Linked DNA regions of Homo sapiens: region 2 is reported to be linked to region 1. The links are microRNA targets in miRTarBase. Many come from high-throughput screens and were not tested one by one. Region 1 holds a microRNA gene; the other region holds the end of a gene's coding sequence.
What was found. The annotated mature microRNA hsa-miR-378a-3p reads ACUGGACUUGGAGUCAGAAGGC and lies in region 1 at 1,412-1,433, shown strand. An mRNA with a match to its seed (bases 2 to 7 or 8) in the 3' UTR can be bound and repressed. Matches are read on the target gene's strand: a 7mer-m8 pairs with bases 2 to 8, a 7mer-A1 pairs with bases 2 to 7 and ends in A, and an 8mer does both.

Region 2: miRTarBase lists CPNE1 as a target of hsa-miR-378a-3p. The part of its 3' UTR that is shown has no 7-base or 8-base seed match.

The regions. Positions count from the first base shown.
Region 1 is chr5:149,731,456-149,734,455 of GRCh38, forward strand. MIR378A (microRNA 378a) reads left to right here and starts at 1,370; the gene lies at 1,370-1,435. All of the region lies in intron 1 of PPARGC1B (PPARG coactivator 1 beta), which reads left to right. RefSeq lists silencers at 1-92, 103-152, 173-262, 293-522.
Region 2 is chr20:35,623,412-35,626,731 of GRCh38, reverse strand. It overlaps CPNE1 (copine 1), which reads left to right. Exons shown (of 16, transcript NM_152925.3): 15 at 1-165; 16 at 351-688. The coding sequence ends at 491. Among named protein-coding and RNA genes, the nearest start is that of SPAG4, 9.2 kb to the right of the region's middle.

The DNA of each region.
Region 1 (3,000 bases):
GCGGAACCTCGGAGGAGCCCCGGGTGCTGGCACACGCCTGGGCACGGAGAGGGGCGGCCGGGCGGAACCGGGCGCGGCTCGCGGGGGCTGGTTTGGTACCTGGAGTGGGAGCGCCGGTGCCGGCCCGTTTTGCATAACAGTGGAAGGGAGGGGGAAGGCGGAGATTGGGGGAGGGAGGTGGGAGGAGAGAGAGGGAAACTTTGCTTCTTGTTATAATCTGCCTGTCTTTGGGCGGCAGCAGCTGTCATGGGACCGGGTGGGCGGGGAGAGGCTTGCAAGCTGACTCCTTGCGGTGAAACGCGACTTGGAAGGGACGCCGCAGCCGAGACGTTCAGCTCCGGGCAGCGACTTCGGGCTGGCGGCTGGGACGGCGTGGCGTGGCAGGGTGTCGCCGAGAGGAAGCCCGCCACGCGGGAGGCAGGCCGCCCCTGGCCCGCTGCAGACGCCGCTGCGTAGGGGAGCCGCGGGGCCGCGTGGTCGGTGGCGGGCGCGCTCGGGTGGGTTCGCGGCAGAGGCCGGAGGGGCTAGTGGCGTGTGATTGCGCTTCTCGAGATCGAGGGGAATGTGTGATGAGCGGGTTGCGCGCGCGGGTGTGTGTGTGTGTGTGTGTGTGTGTGTGTGTGCACACGCCGCGCGCGCCGGGCGCGTACCTTTACCTCTGACGAAACTGCGGTGGAGCTCCCGCCGTCGTCGCCGGGCTCCGTCACACGCCCCGCGCCGGTGTCTGCGCCGAAGGCAGGTCCCAGCCTCAGTACCCCCAGAGCCGACAGCTTGGGGCTAGCGGGCACTGAGTGCGGGAGGAGGGGCAGAGTCACTCCTGGGAAGATTCTGTCCCCAGATCTCGAAATTGCCCTGGGGCGTCTCCGAATCTCTTGGCTGAAAAGCGGATGAGAGAGGCCTGAAATAGCCGGAGACTCGTTCAGGGACCCATGTCAAGAACTGTCCGCTTTGGACTGTACCCCGGATTTTAACTCGATCTTCAGTGTTTGGCTCAGCAATAATTAATTATTTTGCCCTTTAGCCGCCCAGCGAGCCTAGCTAGCAGAAATATTTCAACTAAGGAAACTAGAAAATTGAATACTCAGGTGTTTGCAGGAGCAGTGCAGTGAAAGTTAATCTGGGACATTTGCTTTTTTTATTTAACCACATGACAGGCCGAGGATCTTCTGGTGATCTTTGCCGGCCCAACTTGGGAAATGTAATTGATAGGATGAGCTTTGAGCCGCCCCTAGAAGGCTCGGAGAGCCCAGCCGGAAGAGGACCTGGGCGGGCCCAGTGTGCTCCTCCTTATTTTACAGCTGGAGAAAGAGGCTGCGAGGAGTGAGCGGCTTGTATGGGACCATGCAGCCAGAGGGTGACAGAGCCACCCAGGGCTCCTGACTCCAGGTCCTGTGTGTTACCTAGAAATAGCACTGGACTTGGAGTCAGAAGGCCTGAGTGGAGTCACCTTCCCCACTCTCTGGCTGGGTGACCCCGGAGCAAGCCATTTGAACTCTCCGAGCCTCATTTCCTCCATCTGTCAAATGGGGCTGGTGGTGCCGCAAGAGAATCCAATGGCCTGGTGGTGGGGGTGAGCAGTGTTTGCATGTGAGATGTTCTGGTTGTTCCTGCAACCCCCTCTCCTCCCCCAAACTTTCCCTGACCCTCCCCTCCTTCATCTCCCTTTGGGAGCTTTGGGGAAAGTGGATTAAATGGTAATTCATTGTCTTTGTCCCAAAAGATTGTTGTTGTCTTTGGTGGCTAATCCAGGGTTAGATTAGAGGGAGGACTTCTGTTTAGGAGACTTAACTTTTACCCATTGGGGCCAAAGTACGGAAATTTAGCAGAACAAGGATTGCGAAAGTTTCTTGGAAAGCTTTGAGGCATGGATCCCAAAGGACTGTGGGTGGCTTCACCTTTGTTCAGGCTATGCCCCTGGCCCAGAGTACCCTCACTCACCCGTCCTGCATGGCCTTCTCCTCTACTAGGCTCTCCCAGCCCAGCTTGCCCTGCTTTCTCTCCTTTGGTTTTCTGCATCTGTGTGATACAACCAAGCACTTTGTGTGAGTCTGGTGTCCAGTAAGATTCTAGCACTAGGGTTGTACCTTTTATCATTGTGCCTGCAAGGCACCTGTCAGTATGCTGAGCTGTGTTCCTTTGCTTAGCTCTTGGCTAGGCACATGGATTACAGACAGGGGTGCAGCTGGGTCCTGCCAAGCAGAAGCTCCCAGGCTAGCAGGGGAGACAGCTGGGCAGCGAGTGTGGGAGAGAGGAATGCAGAGGGCTGCAGCTGTGGGCAAAATTTTAGACCCCAAAGGCCACACAGCAAGTCCACACTAAATATGGGCTATTTGAAGTTGCTTAGGGCATCAGTCATAGATGCACAAAATGTCAGAGTTGGCAGCGGGAATGTTAGAAATCATCAGTTCTAACAACTTATTTAAAAATATTTAATTATAGAATTGTTAGAAAATACTGCCAAGCATAAAGAAAAAAATGAGAAATATGTAACATGACCCAAAGATAACCACTTAATTGTCATGTATATTCCAGACTGTTTATTTCCTGTTCATATAGATCACATCTTATTTTTAAAAAATGGAGTCGCCGGGCACGGTGGCTCACCCCTGTAATCCTAGCACTTTGGGAGGCCGAGGCGGGTGAATCACCTGAGGTCAGGAGTTCCGGACCAGCCTGGCCAACATGGTGAAATCCTGTCTCTACTAAAAATACAAAAATTAGCTGGGCGTGGTGACACACACCTGTAATCCCAGCTACTTGGGAGGCTGAGGCAGGAGAATCGCTTGAACCCGGGAGGCGGAGGTTGCAGTGAGCCGAGATCGCGCCACTTCACTCTAGCCTGGACAAAAGAGCGAAACTCATTCTCAAAAAAAAAAAAAAAAAAAAAAAAGGAGTTATCCTGAATATACTGATTTGTAACTTGGAATTGCACTGTTCTGTAACTTGTTTTTTTTTTTCCTCTTCCAAACAATATGCTGTGAACATCTTTCCACATCAGTA
Region 2 (3,320 bases), not on the chromosome of region 1:
CGTGCCTCGAACCTGCCCATGTCAGTGATCATTGTGGGTGTGGGTGGTGCTGACTTTGAGGCCATGGAGCAGCTGGACGCTGATGGTGGACCCCTGCATACACGTTCTGGGCAGGCTGCTGCCCGCGACATTGTGCAGTTTGTACCCTACCGCCGGTTCCAGAATGTGAGTAGGTGCAAATTTGATCTGGGAGTTTACCCTTTCACCTTTCCCTGATGTGAGTAGGGTTGAGGCCCAAGGGATGCTCACCTTTTCCTCTAAGCCTGGGATATGGTTGGGTTCTTGAGCATGAAATACAGACTTTGGGCAGCTGTTCTGGGCCACCACTGACTTTTCCCTTTTCTTGGCAGGCCCCTCGGGAGGCATTGGCACAGACCGTGCTCGCAGAAGTGCCCACACAACTGGTCTCATACTTCAGGGCCCAGGGTTGGGCCCCGCTCAAGCCACTTCCACCCTCAGCCAAGGATCCTGCACAGGCCCCCCAGGCCTAGGTTCCCTTGGAGGCTGTGGCAAGTCCTCAATCCTGTGTCCCAGAGGTCCCTCTGGGCCACAACCCAACCCTTCTCACTCTCCTCAGTGCTAGCACTTTGTATTTTTTGATACTTTTATACTTGTTTCTGCTTTTGCTGCTCTTGATCCCACCTTTGCTCCTGACAACCCTCATTCAATAAAGACCAGTGAAGACCAATGCTTTGCCACCACTCTCTTGTGTGTTTTTAGGTAGGAGGCTGCTATGAGCAATGTTTACATCCCCTCTCCACACCTTAGTTTGTTTACTTAGGGGTTGTTACGTGAAGGATGTCTCTGGTGTAAAGCCCCACTCAAAGTTGAGTATTTCTGGGCAGATATCTATTCATTCTAGAGACACTGACTCACTGTTTTTGAAAATACAGCCAGGGGTGGGTATCATGTACCTGTAGTCCTCAGCTTGGGAGGCTGAGGTGGGAGGACTGCTTGAGCTCAGGAGTTCCAGAGCAGGTCTGGGCAACATAGCAAGACCCCATTACACACACAAGAAAAGGAAATACAAAGTTTGAAAGTAAGCTAAACACCCAGCCTTCGCCTTCCCTCCCTCAGGGCAGAGCTGGGCTGGGAATACAAAGATGGAAAGTGTCAGACTTCATAAAAAGCAGCAAAAGGAGAAGGATGGATGAGTTTTAAGGTGGAGCAAAGGCTATGTTAGACTTCCTGGAGGGGAGGGAGTAGTGGTAATTTTGGTCCTAAAGACAAGTGAAAATCCTGAATTTTTTTAACAGCTAATTTTTTCTTAATAGAGAATACATGTATTCATTGTAGAAAAATTCTGGCTGGGCGTGGTGGCTCATGCCTGTAATCCCAGCACTTTGGGAGGCTGAAGAGGGCAGATCATTTGAGGTCAGGAGTTCAAGACCAGCCTGGCCAACATGATGAAACCCCATCTCTACTAAAAATACAGAAATTAGCTTGGTGTGGTGGTGGGTGCCTATGATTCCAACTACTCAGGAGGCTGAGGCAGGAGAATCGCTTGAACCCAGGAAGCGGAGGATGCAGAGAGCTGGTATTGCACCACTGCACCCCAGCCTGAGCTACAGAGCGAGACTCTGTCTCAGAAAAGAAAAAAATTTTAAGTGCAGAAAAAATATCACTCAAACTCCCATGTCCTGATAAAACATATTGGGCACATAACTTTTTGTCTACACATACTGTTTTAGCATGTGTTAAAATTTGTTTTTTCTAATTTTAAAATACGTGCTTGTTAGTATGAAGTTATTTCAAATATAAATATTGTACAAATAGGCCAGGTGCAGTGGCTCACACCTGTAATCCCAGCACTTTGGGAGGCCGAGGCAGGCGGATCACAAGGTCAGGAGATTGAGACCATCCTGGCTAACAGGGTGAAACCCCGTCTCTACTAAAAAATGTAAAAAATTAGCCAGGCGTGGTGGCGGGCGCCTGTGGTCCCAGCTACTGGGGAGGCTGAGGCAGGAGAATGGCGGGAACCCAGGAGGCGGAGCTTTCAGTGAGCTGAGATGGCGCCACTGCACTCCTGCCTGGGTGACAAAGCGAGACTCCCTCTCAAAAAAAAAAAACAAAAACACATTGTACAAATAGTGGAGCAGGTAAGGGCCCCTGTTTTTCCTAGATCTGAAAAATAGATTTTTATCAATGGGCTATTTATACGTACTACTTGGACCTTTTTATTTAATACATTTTGGTGTCTTACCTATCAGAACCTATTGCTTCATTCCTTTTTTTTTTTTTTTTTTTTTTTGAGACGTAGTCGCTCTGTATTGCCCAGGCTGGAGTGCAATGGCGTGATCTCAGCTCACTGCAACTTCTGCCTTCTGGGTTCAAGCGATTCTCCTGCTTCACCTCCCAAGTAACTGGGACTACAGGCACGCACCACCATGCCTGGCTAATTTTTGTATTTTTAGTAGAGATGGGGTTTCACCATGTTGGCTGGTCTTGAACTCGAGACCTCAGGTGATCTGCCCACCTTGGCCTCCCAAAGTGCTGGGATTACAGGCATAAGCCACTGCACCTGGCCATCATTTTTTTTTTTTTTTTTGTAGGAGTGTACCTTATTTAGCTCATCTCTTATTTATGGAGATTTGAGTCTTAGTTTCTTTCAATGCTGTAATGAACATCCTTGTACATATATGTCTGTGCACTTAACTGGAATGTTTCTGAAGAAACATTTGTTCTGAAGAAACATTTATTCCTAAAAGTGGAAATGCTATATCAAAGGTTATATTTTAAATTTTAATAGATATTGCAAATTATTCTTCATAACAAAAATTATGGTCAAAGTTACACCTTTTGTTAATCTGACAGGTAAAAAAAGAAGCAAAAAATCATTTTTAGTTTGAATTTATTTTATTTTTTATTTTATTTTTATTTTTTTGATGGAGTCTCACTCTGTTGCCCAGGCTGGAGTGCAGTGGCACCATCTCAGCTCACTGCAACCTCCGCCTCCCAGGTTCAAGTGATTCTCCTGCCTCAGCCTCCTGAGTAGCTGGGATTGCAGGCATGCGCCAGCACGCCCGGCTGATTTTTGTATTTTTAGTAGAGACGGGGTTTCACCATATTGGTCAGGCTGGTCTCAAACTCCTGACCTCGTGATCTGCTCACCTCGGCCTCCCAAAGTGCTGGAATTACAGGCGTGAGCCACCACACCCAGCTCGAATTTATTTAAATATGAAGGATCGGTATCTTATATGGTTATTTGTAAATTATAGTTCTTCTCAATAGCCTATTCATAGTCTGCATGTATGTGTTATAGCTTTTATTTTGTTAAGGTTATTAGCCCCTTCATCTCATACATGTTGAAAATATTTCTT